Linked DNA regions of Homo sapiens. The protein of the gene in region 3 purifies or fractionates together with the protein of the main gene of each other region. This does not show direct contact. Each region holds a gene or a part of one and is shown on either strand. Other genes may lie near its edges. The genes, in order: GRAMD1B, POP4 and PCDHGB4.

Region 1 (3,748 bases), on a different chromosome or scaffold from region 3:
CATCTTCCTTCTCAGCCTCTACAACCCCTTACTCTACCTATCCTTCCCCCACACCCTCCTCAACATCACCACTATTAGCTGTTACTAGACTGAGCTCACAGAAATATTCAGTAAGTACTTACTGAATTGAAATCAATGTAATTGAACAGATTTGGAGAAGGAATTCCAGGGAAAGTGATCAATGACTCAGTTGCTCCGCACAAGAACACAAATCCATTAAGAGACAGGACCCTAAAGTCTCAAAGTAAATATGTAGGATTCGTGGTACCGATGAACAAGTGAGGACTCCCTGCCCTCCACCAGGCAAGGGGCTTGGCTCAGACACAACTTCCTGAAGCAGCAGTCCTGACCAGGGCTGTGTAGAGCTGCTCTAGGGCGCCCTGCAGCAATTCTCTACGTGAGGGAAGCTCAACCTTCTCCCATTACCCAGATGCCACATTGACCTAGGCAAAAAACTAGCTGGTACAAACCACAGTCTTGTAGGTATCGATGTCTAAAGACTCTGATATGGTAGGAAATGTGACTCACTCAATGTCAATATTTCACTTCCACACAAGTGAGCCAGTTAAGGCAATCCGGTGTGGCCAAACATAAAATAAGATTGAAACGGAGTCCTGAAATATAAACCACTTAACTGTTCTCTGGCCTTTTACTATCTCCTTCTGTAGAAAGGGAGCCATAGTAATACCTACCTCAGAGAGTTTGCGTAGGGATGAAATCTGGAGGTACATGAAGTGCGCAACATAGTGGCCCGCACATGGTAAGGGCTCAATAACTATTAGCTGTTATTATTTTTATTATTTATTTCGCTGCGAGGATCAAGGGAGATGGAATGCAGCGTAAAGCCCCACGTAAACGTGTCGTGCAACATGAAGCCCCTCACCCTGAGTTGGGGAGCGGGTGGCACGCGTGGAAGCTGAATGCCACCATCCCTGGGACCAGGCGCAGCGCCCTCCAGAAGCGCCTCTGGTGACGGGCTCCTGTTCTCCCCCAGGACGTTTCCCCCAGAATGCCCCGGGGCCCTGGACGGCTCTGGAGAGGACGGGAGGGAAGGGAAGGAGACGGGCGGAACGGGGACGTACCTGCTTTCACTGCACTCCTTCCGCTCCCTCACCCTCAGCCACTTGCGGAGGAGGAAGCGTTTTCGGCGCGGGGACGCGCTGGGTGTGGAGCAGTTGGACCACGGGGTGTCCTCGTCGCTGGAGGGCGTGATCTCGATGGACGGCAGCTGCAGGAACTCCTTGCCGGGGGCCAAGACGGCGGGCAGGTCCCGGGCCAGCCCGGCCTCCAGGCTCTGCTCCTGTACGTTCTTCATGCGGCGCATCTTGAAGCGCCGGCGGCGAAGCGTGGGGGTCGACGAACTGGACCAGACCGGGCTGCCCTCGGGCGCACCCTGCGGCTCGGGCACCTGCAGGGCGGGCAGCGGCCGGTTCTCCATCATGTTGGCCGCCGGCATGGGGGCCGTCGCCTCTGCGCTCCCCCTGAGCCCTCCGCCAGCGGCCTGGTTCGCGTCTCCCTCTGGCTGTTCCCCACCCTCGGCCCCGCGGCACACTCCCCAATCCTGGGGCCGAAGGAACAAGTTCCTTTCCCGGAGCGCAGCGAGGAAGGGACGCGAGGGGACGCGGCGTAGCGCGCCGCCGCCCGGAGTCTAACTTTTCGGAGCGCGCGTCCTCCGGGCCGTCAGCCGCCGGCGAGGCCACCCGGGAGGGGCGGGAGCCGCCTGCCAGCCACTCGGCAGCCCTCCTGGGGCTCCCCTCGCGCGCCCGCTTGTTTTTCTTCCGCTGCGCTTCCTCGCTTGCTGGCGTCTTTGCCTTAGCGGGACTCGGCAGCCAGGGGCCCCAGGGGGCGGTGCAGCAAACTCTCAGCGGTTTGCGTTCAGCAGACCAGGTTGGGGAGCCGGCTTGGCGCTGCAGGGAGGTAGAGAGCGGGAGGAAGAGGCAGTGGTAGGAGGGAAAGGGAGAGAGAGACAGAGAGAGAGAGAGAGAGAGGAAGCGAGACACTGGATAAAAACAAAAAAGGAGGAGGAGGAGCGGGGGCTGGGGGCGGGGTGAGGGGGGCTATCCTGAATGGGCTAGCACTGGCAGCGACCGCTAGTGTAACTGTACACGGATTCCCTCGGGGAGGGACTCGACCTCCAAGTAAAGGCTGCTCCAATCAGCCTACTGAAATAGGATCACAAACCAAACTTTCTCAGGGCAACGATTGGCCAGGCAACTCCCATTAGTCGAACTCGGCTATTTCCTTGGGGGTGGGGGGTGCAGAGAAAGGGGAGTCAATGAATTCAGTCCTCACTCTCTCAGGCCACCCATGATACAGGGTTGAAGGAAAATGAGGAGACTTTTCAACTAGCTCTTGTCTCCTAAGAAAGGCAGTTTAAATTATTTGGGGGCGTGAGTAGTGGCACTGCAGGCCGGAGTATAGTCAGAGGAGGAAAGCAAGGTTGCTGGAGGCTGCTTCCAAAATGACAAGCTGAGAAGAGGACAGTTCTCCCGTGGCGGCGTGAGCTGAGGATACCAGACATGACATACCAAGGAAAGACAGACAACAGGGTCTGAGAGACAAAGGACACAGGACCAGTAAGGAAAATGGGGCCTGAACCCTGTACATGAGCCAGCTGCCAGTACCATAGCCGCGTCCCTAGCAAAGAATGAAATGAGGAGTCGGTGAGCACCCACAAAGCAATGCATCCAACAGAGCCCCAGGGAGTCGAGGGTACCCCCCCTTACATTGCTGAGGGCTGATTCAGTTCTGCTTCAGCCTGCCATGGACTGAGTCACAGAATCCAGTATGTCCCCATGTCATGGAACCTAGGAAGTCTGGTTCAGTCCTGGTAGCATCCCAAGATGTGCTGAACCACACTCACTCTCTAGACCCAGGCCCTAAGAGATCATCAACCCTAGAACCGATCCATCCTATTTAGGTGCTCTCTGTGGGCACTGAGTCTAACCCAGCCCAGCTCCTAGAGCAGGGCTGTAGCAGCCATTCTCCTCCTTCAACCCCAGCCCAATGCATTTGTCTCTTGGGTCAGTAACTGTTTTGTTTTGTTTTGTTTTTAAGAGACAAAGTCTCACTCTGTTGCCCAGGCTGGAGTGCAGTGGTGCAGTCATGGCTCACCGCAACCTTGAATTCCTGGGCTCAAGCTGTCCTCCCAGCTGAGCCTCCTGAGTAGCTGGGAGTACAGGTGCGCACCACCACACGCAGCTAAGTTTTATTTCTTTTTGTCGATATGAGGTCTTGCTATATTGCCCAGGCTGGTCTCAAACTCCTGGCCTCAAGTGATCTGCCCACCTTGGCCTCCCAAAGTGCTGAGATTACAGGCATGAGCCACCATGCCCAGCCTGGTCAGTAACTTTCAAAGAGATCATGAGAAGCACCCAAGAACATACCATGAAGTCCACAATCTGATCCACCCTTCTTTTCTGCCTCTCTCAGAGTCCAGTTTCCATCTGGGAGCCAATGCCCAGCTTCCGTGCCAGGACAAAAGTCACATTTCACAAGTGTCCCGAAGCTGAGGAAAATTCACATCCCTAAAGATCACAAGAATTCACTGCAAGTAAATACATCCCTGCAGTTCAGCAAGACATCAAGGATGACAGCTGGCTATGGATCTACCAAGCTCTGCAATGACACTTGTCAAGTATGGAAAAGCTCAAGGCATCCTGACATTACACAACTTTTGAGAGGCTGGGAAACCAAGGGAAATATTTCTTCCTCAGGGAGAGAGATACTGCGGCTGAAGAGCCAAGGC
Region 2 (3,748 bases), on a different chromosome or scaffold from region 3:
GCTGCCAGAAGACTTGAAGCAGGGAAGGAACGTGCTCTGATTTCTACGTAACCGGCACTCTGGCTGCCTGGTGCGGTGAGGAGCTGTGTCTGAGGTAATCTGGGGAATGACAGTGGCTGAATTTAAGTAGTAGGATGTTCCGAAGGATTCGAGGAGATTAGGAAAGAAGAAACATAGACACTGTTTAGGTTTTTGGTCTGAACAACCAGTGTAAATAACTGAGTAATTAACTGAGATGGAAAAGACCAGGAGGGGTTGCTGTGAGGAGAATCGGTGGCAGCTTTGGCTATGTAAAGTCTGAGATGCCCCCTGAACATCCAGGTGGCTATGTCAAGTGGGCAGCTGGATGCCTGAGCCTGGAGTTCAGGGGACAGGCCTACGCTGGAGATGTCACCTTGGGGGCTGTCAGGTGTAGCTGACATTTGAAACCACAGCATTGGATGAAAGGGATTCTGTGTTCAAGATCCCAGGCCGTGGGTGAGTGCTCGCAGCCACTGTGCCCTTTAGGGTACCAACAGGGGTCCCTGTGTGGAGAAGGTACACAGAGACCACTTAGGGTGTGTCCAGCAAATGGCCGGACTGGCTAAGACAGCCAGCGAGAAGCATCTCCCACCCTTAGCGTGGGGATGATGGTGACTGGGGGCCATCTCAGGGAATCCACACGGTAAAGAGTGTGTCCAACAGAACACACGCCCTGGGTCTCCACAGAGTGACAGAGTGAACCTCTGGATGGCCATGTGCTACACGCTCTTAGGTAAATTACCTGAAATAATAGCCCCGTGAAGATCTGCCTTTAAGAGCTTGGCCTGAATCATCTGTGGCTGCCTGCAGGGTAAACAGAAGCCCTTGGTTTACATCATGATAAAAAGTTCCAAAAGAAGCAACTAGGTCTTTAACCGTCTGCAGCCAGGCAATACCAACGCTGGTTCCTGAAGCCGCATTTACAATGATCAGAGGCTTGAGATCCACCCCAAAGAGCAAAGCTTCAGGAATGCAACTTACGTGTCTGGCTTGAGCCCACTGCACAGGTCCCTGATGTACTGTTTCCAGAGTTCATGGAGAGGGAGGAAAAGGCTGTATCTGCAGCAAAGTCAGAAACAGGGAAAAAGTTAGACAACATGAGCTTGGGATGACAATGTCCAAATAGCACAGAGCTTGACTTGATGCCAACAACTGCAACCTGGGATCATTAGGAACTATGTGCAAATCCGACGATGAGCAATTGAGCTGATAACCGAGACCAAGAACCTACACCTCTCTAACCTCAGTTTCCTCATTGGTAGGACCACACCAGCCCAGGGCGGTGTCCACCTGGACTTCTTTTCATGAGAGAGAAATAAACGTGAGTCTTGTTGAAGCTACTGTTATTTTGAGGTTTTCTGTTACGTGAAATTGAACCTAGTAAGCCCCCAGTAAAGCAGGGGTTGCTGGTTGTCACGCAGGTCCTCATGTGAGGCAGCAGGCTGGTCTGGAAGGTGGGCAAGCAAGTGGTGGGGAGAAGAAGCGGGGAGCAGGGGCAAGGACCCCAACAGCGTTCTTCTGGGCCATTATCTCCAGTCTTGATATCCTGTGGGGAATCCGTTACCACAAAGCCTTAGGTTAGAGAAATGAGGACCTTAAGCTCAAACCCAACCTGGGCTCCACCCGGGAGGCAAACCCTGGGAGGCAGCAGCCCCTTCTCCACCTGAGGCCCAGCTGATCTCCTGAGTGGGGCCGGGAACAGCATGGCATACTTTAAGCGTCTTCTGGAGCGTGGGAGGCTATTTGGCCGTTGATCTCCAAGCAAAAGCCTACAGACAGCCCCAAGACACCCACACTCAGACCCGTCACCAAGGAGGGATGGCGGGTCGGCTGGAGGAAGACATCCTCCCACAGGACAGGACAGTGATGCATTCCTTTTGGAAACTTCTGAAACGTGTGGGCAACATCTTGCTTTGGCAATGAAACCCGAGTGGGTGACTGTCTGGCTCTATCAAAAGCTACAAAGTAATACACACTAAAAACATATCAGTTCCTCTTTTCTGTCTAACAAAGCCGAAGGACAAACAGCCTGTTGCCATGGGCAACAGATGTACTTGCACGGGTCTTACTCCTGAAGGTGAGGAGAGAGGCCAGACAATGAGTCCTGTCTCACCCGCCTCGCTGAACACAGCCCAGATTGGTAAAGGAAGGCTGCCCTCTTGTGGCAGACGACAGAGAGGCCCCCTTAGCTTAGGTGGAGCCAGGCTGCCTCCCCAGCCACTCAGCCAAGTTCACACACCAAGAAGGGTAAGCACCGCGGGCAGAAAGACGTGGGGAGCTCGGGTTACCTCTGCTGCTCTGGTTTAATGTCAAAGAGCCGCAGCTCCCTCCTTTGCCTGGCAGAGAGGCCTTTGGCTTTCTTCTTCTTCTCCTTGCGCTTGTGGCGGGTGAAGTACTCCAGGACCACCGCCTTGCGCTGCAGCTGGTCCTCGCGGGCCTGCGGGCTCATGCGGGGCGTGCTGCGCTTCAGGAAGGCCCTCACGAAGGCCTCGGCCCGCTGTGCTCCTGAAGGCTGCAGGCGGACAAGGGGGTGCGGCGCTCACTGCTCCGGTCTGGGCAGCCCAGGATCCCAGGCATCCCGCCCGCCATTCCCGGCAGCTACTGCAAGAGCAAATGGGGCCCATCCCTTTACCTACTGAGGCTCTCAACCTGCTCATCCGCCATGCATCTGCTACCCACAGCTGCCGAGATGTAAGTCACACTCACACACCAATTCATGACCGTTTGTCACACACAACAGCGTGTCAAACGCTCACTTCCTGCTCTGGCCCTGCTTTTCTGAGGTTATTCTGAAAGGACCAAAACCTTTCTATCTTGAAGAAGAATTCTCTCATCCTTGGCAGAAGAGAAAGCTTGAGAAATGTATAACAAATATATTCAACCAGGCATGACCAGATGAAAGTGAGCTCAGAGTAGCACTAAGCTATGGAGGAAGTGATCCTAACACTACAGAAAACAGCAAAACTAGGGCTCCAGGGTCGGCCAAGCCTCAGGGCGCAGGGACCCTGACACTGTGCCCTTAGGACAATACTCCTTAACCGGGTTTCCAGCTCTGTGGGCATGGTGTGGCCACTCTCCAAAAGGTCCGCTCCCGCCCCGCAGACCATCACTTGGAGGAAGGTACCGTCGAGAGCATCTCAGGCCCCAGGCTCGCTCTCTCTGAAGGGTGTCACTGAGAGCAGGGCGTCAACTTACCATGAATGAGCACAGGCTCTTAGAGAGGACTTCTGGGAAAAATGACTGTCGTAATTGTGTGCAATTCTCAAACAAACAAACAAACAAACAAACAAACAAAGAAACCCTCCAAGCTCACTACCTCTCAGGTTGGAGTTCCAATAACGGATTCCTCATTTGGTGGCAATGCCACTGCCCTCATGCCTGCCACAGACCTGGGCAGTTCTCTCTCCTGAGGGCCTGTCTCCTGGCTGGGCTGTTTCCTGAGCTCTTTTTGCACTAGCCAGGTGCTAAATGCTAAGACTGAGGCTGACAGACTGATGCTGATCTGTCAATAGTAACGCAGCCTTCCTTCTGTGGGAGAGCAATGGGGATGGGAAGATAGGGTACATATAGCCTTCGAGGGAGCTCACAGTATGATGGTGGGAACTCTGCTTCAGCTTTGCACCTGTAGATGCTAACTAAAAATTAATTCACTCTCGTCATTGTGACTATAATAGGACAATGATCTGATTCTCTTAAATACCTGAGTGGCTCATCTTTCATGGAGAAG
Region 3 (3,748 bases):
GATCTGCTCATAGTCGAAAGATTGCAGCGCATACAGGACACCGGTGTCAGAGTTGATGGAGATATACGAGGACAGGGGCGCCCCCTGCAGCGTGTCCTCGGTCACAGAGTAAGTGACCTGGGCATTCTCCTGGCTGTCGGGGTCGTGTGCAGTCAAGGAAAAGATGGAGGCTCCTCTCAGGTTGTTCTCTAGGATATACGCTGAGTAGGAGGCATGAGGGAAAGTAGGAGGGTTGTCGTTAATGTCTGCCACGTGCAGAGCGATTTGAGTTTCAGTGGACAGAGGTGGTGTTCCTAGATCTGAGGCCATCACTGTGATATTGTAGATAGAGACATTTTCTCGGTCCAAATATTTCCTTGTCACTAATCTATAATAATTACCTATTGACTTTTCTAATTTAAAAGGTAAATTATCACGTGTGTAACAGACAACTTGACCATTCTTTCCAGAGTCTTGGTCATGCACACTCAAGAAGGCAATTACTGTCCCGGGAAGAGAATTTTCTAACACTGGGCTAAACAAAGACGTAATGATCACTTCTGGTCTATTGTCATTTACATCTTCCACCGAAATGAGCAATTTGGTCCTCCCCAGAAGTGCCCCCACATCTTCGGCTTGTATTTCCATTTCATAAAATGAACATTCTTCATAATCTAGACTTTTTGCTATTGATATTTCCCCAGTATTTTCATTAAGCTGGAATAACGGAGTTTGTTTTTCATTAATTTTCCGGAATTTGTATGCCACTTTTCCGTTGATTCCCTCATCCGGGTCGCTGGCTGTTACAGTAAGCAGCCGCGTGCCTGGGGGCATGTTCTCAAGGACTTTCACTCGGTAAATCGGGTGAGGAAAAACCGGGGCATTGTCATTTGTATCCAACACTGTCACGTGGATGCGCACTGTGCTAGAGCGAGGCGGCTTGCCGCCATCCGAGGCCGTGAGGACCAGGTGGTGAGCAGCCTCTTCCTCCCTGTCCAGGGCGCGCTCCAGCACCAGCTCTGGGTTTATGGCTCCATTGTCTCCAGTCTGCACGTCCAGGGAGAAGTGGTGATTGGGGCTGAGCTGGTAGCTCTGGAGGGAGTTCACGCCCACATCCGGGTCAACAGCTTCTGGGAGTGGATAACGTGCTCCAGGAACCGCGATTTCGTTAATTTTTACTTCTAGATCTTCGACCTGGAATTTTGGGTTATTATCGTTAATATCAATTATTTCTATTTCTACCCCAAAGAGTTTTCCTTTATCCTCAACCAGGGTGTTAATATTTATCAGACACCGCGGGCTCTGAGCGCAGAGCTCCTCCCGATCTATCCTGCCCGCGGTGATCAAGCTGCCGCTGCGCGGGTTCAGAGCAAAGAGCTGCGTCCTACCTCTGGAGACGATACGGACTCCGTGCTTCGCCAGCTTCCGGGGGTCCAGCCCCAGGTCCTTGGAGATATTACCCACGAAGGAGCCTTTGTCCGTCTCTTCTGGCACAGAGTAGCGAATCTGTCCCCTCCCGATTTCCCACAGCGTTCCCAGCAGCGCGCACAGCAGGATCAGCTCGCCGCGTCTGGGGCGACTCTGTGGAGCGGCCATTGTTGTTTTGCTGCAGAATCCTCTCAGAATCTTCACTGTGCATAAATGGGTCTTATTTAGTTTCTTGCCGCAGCTATGGAGATGACAATCCTCCGGAAACCTGGAGTGCCTCCAAACAGGGGTCGGGTTTCGCTGCAGTCCAGCAGTTAGTTTGTGGCATCTGCGGGTCTTCGTGAGGTGTGAGATCTGAGTGTTTTCGGTTGCATTTGTCTTCCAGTAGGTGAACAGCGGCGCTTACAGTCCTAAATAGTTACTGCACTGAGATACAGATTACTTCTAAATGTAATACTCTACTAGATTACTGAGAAAAAAAAATCATTTGCTTATTACTTTGTTTTGAATTTATTTGATTTATCCGTAAACCCATATTTTAAAAGAAACAGCCAAAGAATGTGAGATGAAGGTTTTATTTAGTGTTATTAAATGATCAGATTAGATCAGAATGATCAGATTGTAGCATCGGATTAAATTACTCACATTTCTGCAATACATTTGGTCTTAAAAAAAACATGATACTTTCATTTCCCATTGTGCTCTAAGCTTTATTGTAAATGTCTCCAATATATACTAACAAATAACTAAGAACTTCAGTTGTCACCAGAAATGAATTTATCTTGAGACTAAAATAGACCTACTGGAGATGACTGACTCAGAAATTGTTTTATTTGGTTTAAACTACTTAATCATTTTACAAGCTTTCTATAGAGTTGTTGCTTTTAAATTATTCTTCTAAATGCCACTTGAATTACATGTCGATAATATTTTCAAATAAAAATTGTGGAATTTCAATAGGATAAATGCTTTTACCATTGCAGTTTTATGAGATATTACATTGTTTTGCTATTTTATTTACATTGTTTATATTTTTCTATTTGAATACTTGAAAGGTACAGATGAATATATGATAAAAAGCAAAGCTCCATCCCATCCCTTTCACCAAAGAGATGATTAAATTTAAAGCAGACTTGACTTTTACATATATTCTAAAATTAACTTTACCTACATTAACACTTTGATCTAAAAAACTGCAAAAAGTAATGACTATATAATACTTACTAAGAAGCCAAAGGATAAGTATGACTACAAAAAAGTCTGTTTCCCTTCAAGACCAGCCTGGGCAACGTAGCAGATGAACTTATTTCACCCTTCCTTTGAAGACTGGTATGATAGTTTTTTCACTGACTAAAACTTTCTTAAAACCACTCATGAAATCTGAAAACTTTATATTTTCCTGTGAATATATTTTCTTATGCATATGGAAAACTGGGTAGACAATGGAAACCATACCAGTTAAATTAGTGAAAGAAAATATTTTCTCTACTGAAAACAGAAAAATTAGCCAGGTCTGGTGGCATGAGCCTGAGTTCCAGCTAGTCAGGAGGCTGATGCAGAAGGAATGCTTGAGCCCAGGAGTTTGAGGCTGGAGGGAGCTATCATTGTGCCACTGCACTACAGCCTGAGTAACAGACAGAGACTCTGTCTCAAAAAAAAAAAAAGAAAAAAAAAAGAATCGAAAGACGTTTCCTTCTTTCAGCAATTTGTAAAGTGGCCATTAACTGAAGCAGTTGCTTAGATATACCTAGCAAAAGGCTCATATAATGTTCCTTGGTATTTTGTATATATTTTGTATGCACACCAGATTGGCAGTTTTCAAGACTATATTTCTTTCCTAGAGGTAGGAGAATGATTAGAAGACCTCTAGCTATATTAGTTTAGGGCTGCAGATAAGGCAGTTACACATTATATATTAGGGCTGTGTGTGAGAGGGACAACAGACACAAAACATTGTCTTTTCTTTGATGAAGGATATAGAATGAGCTTGAATACAGATTAATCCTGAAACTCCTATGTTACAAGTAAGGAGAATCTGCTTTTGATCTTCTAATGAGCATAGTAGACCTTTTTCTAAGTAAAAGGATCTCTCTCACACACACACACACACACACGCACACACAGCGTACACTGCATATAATCACAAGGGGTCCATGGACATAAAAATCCAGTTGACTCCTTATTCTAAGAGCTTTTGAAACAAAAGGGAAGTTAACACAGGAAACAAAACAGTGGACTACTATGGAGACCATACCAGTTAAATTAGTTAAGAAAAGTGTTGAATTTTAGCTTAAATTCTTTGGCTTTATTATTTTTATATTTATGGTATATCCAAGCTGAA

Evidence for each region.
Region 1: the proteins of PCDHGB4 (region 3) and GRAMD1B purify together in Homo sapiens (affinity purification with mass spectrometry; 2 studies listed by BioGRID and IntAct, with this or other methods). This does not show direct contact.
Region 2: the proteins of PCDHGB4 (region 3) and POP4 purify together in Homo sapiens (affinity purification with mass spectrometry; 2 studies listed by BioGRID and IntAct, with this or other methods). This does not show direct contact.

The regions. Positions count from the first base shown.
Region 1 is NC_000011.10:123,428,501-123,432,248, reverse strand, and holds the start of GRAMD1B (protein Aster-B), read right to left. Parts: upstream 1,981-3,748; 5' UTR 1,457-1,980; coding exon 1,083-1,456; exon of another isoform or gene 1,035-1,082; intron 1-1,034. UniProt on the Homo sapiens protein: Cholesterol transporter that mediates non-vesicular transport of cholesterol from the plasma membrane (PM) to the endoplasmic reticulum (ER).
Region 2 is NC_000019.10:29,609,194-29,612,941, reverse strand, and holds part of POP4 (ribonuclease P protein subunit p29), read right to left. Parts: intron 2,534-3,748; coding exon 2,310-2,533; intron 1,081-2,309; coding exon 1,003-1,080; intron 826-1,002; coding exon 764-825; intron 1-763. UniProt on the Homo sapiens protein: Component of ribonuclease P, a ribonucleoprotein complex that generates mature tRNA molecules by cleaving their 5'-ends.
Region 3 is NC_000005.10:141,390,641-141,394,388, reverse strand, and holds part of PCDHGB4 (protocadherin gamma-B4 isoform 1 precursor), read right to left. Parts: intron 1,757-3,748; exon of another isoform or gene 1,576-1,756; coding exon of another isoform or gene 1-1,575. Other genes in the region: PCDHGA8 (protocadherin gamma-A8 isoform 1 precursor), read right to left, coding at 1-1,575. UniProt on the Homo sapiens protein: Potential calcium-dependent cell-adhesion protein. May be involved in the establishment and maintenance of specific neuronal connections in the brain.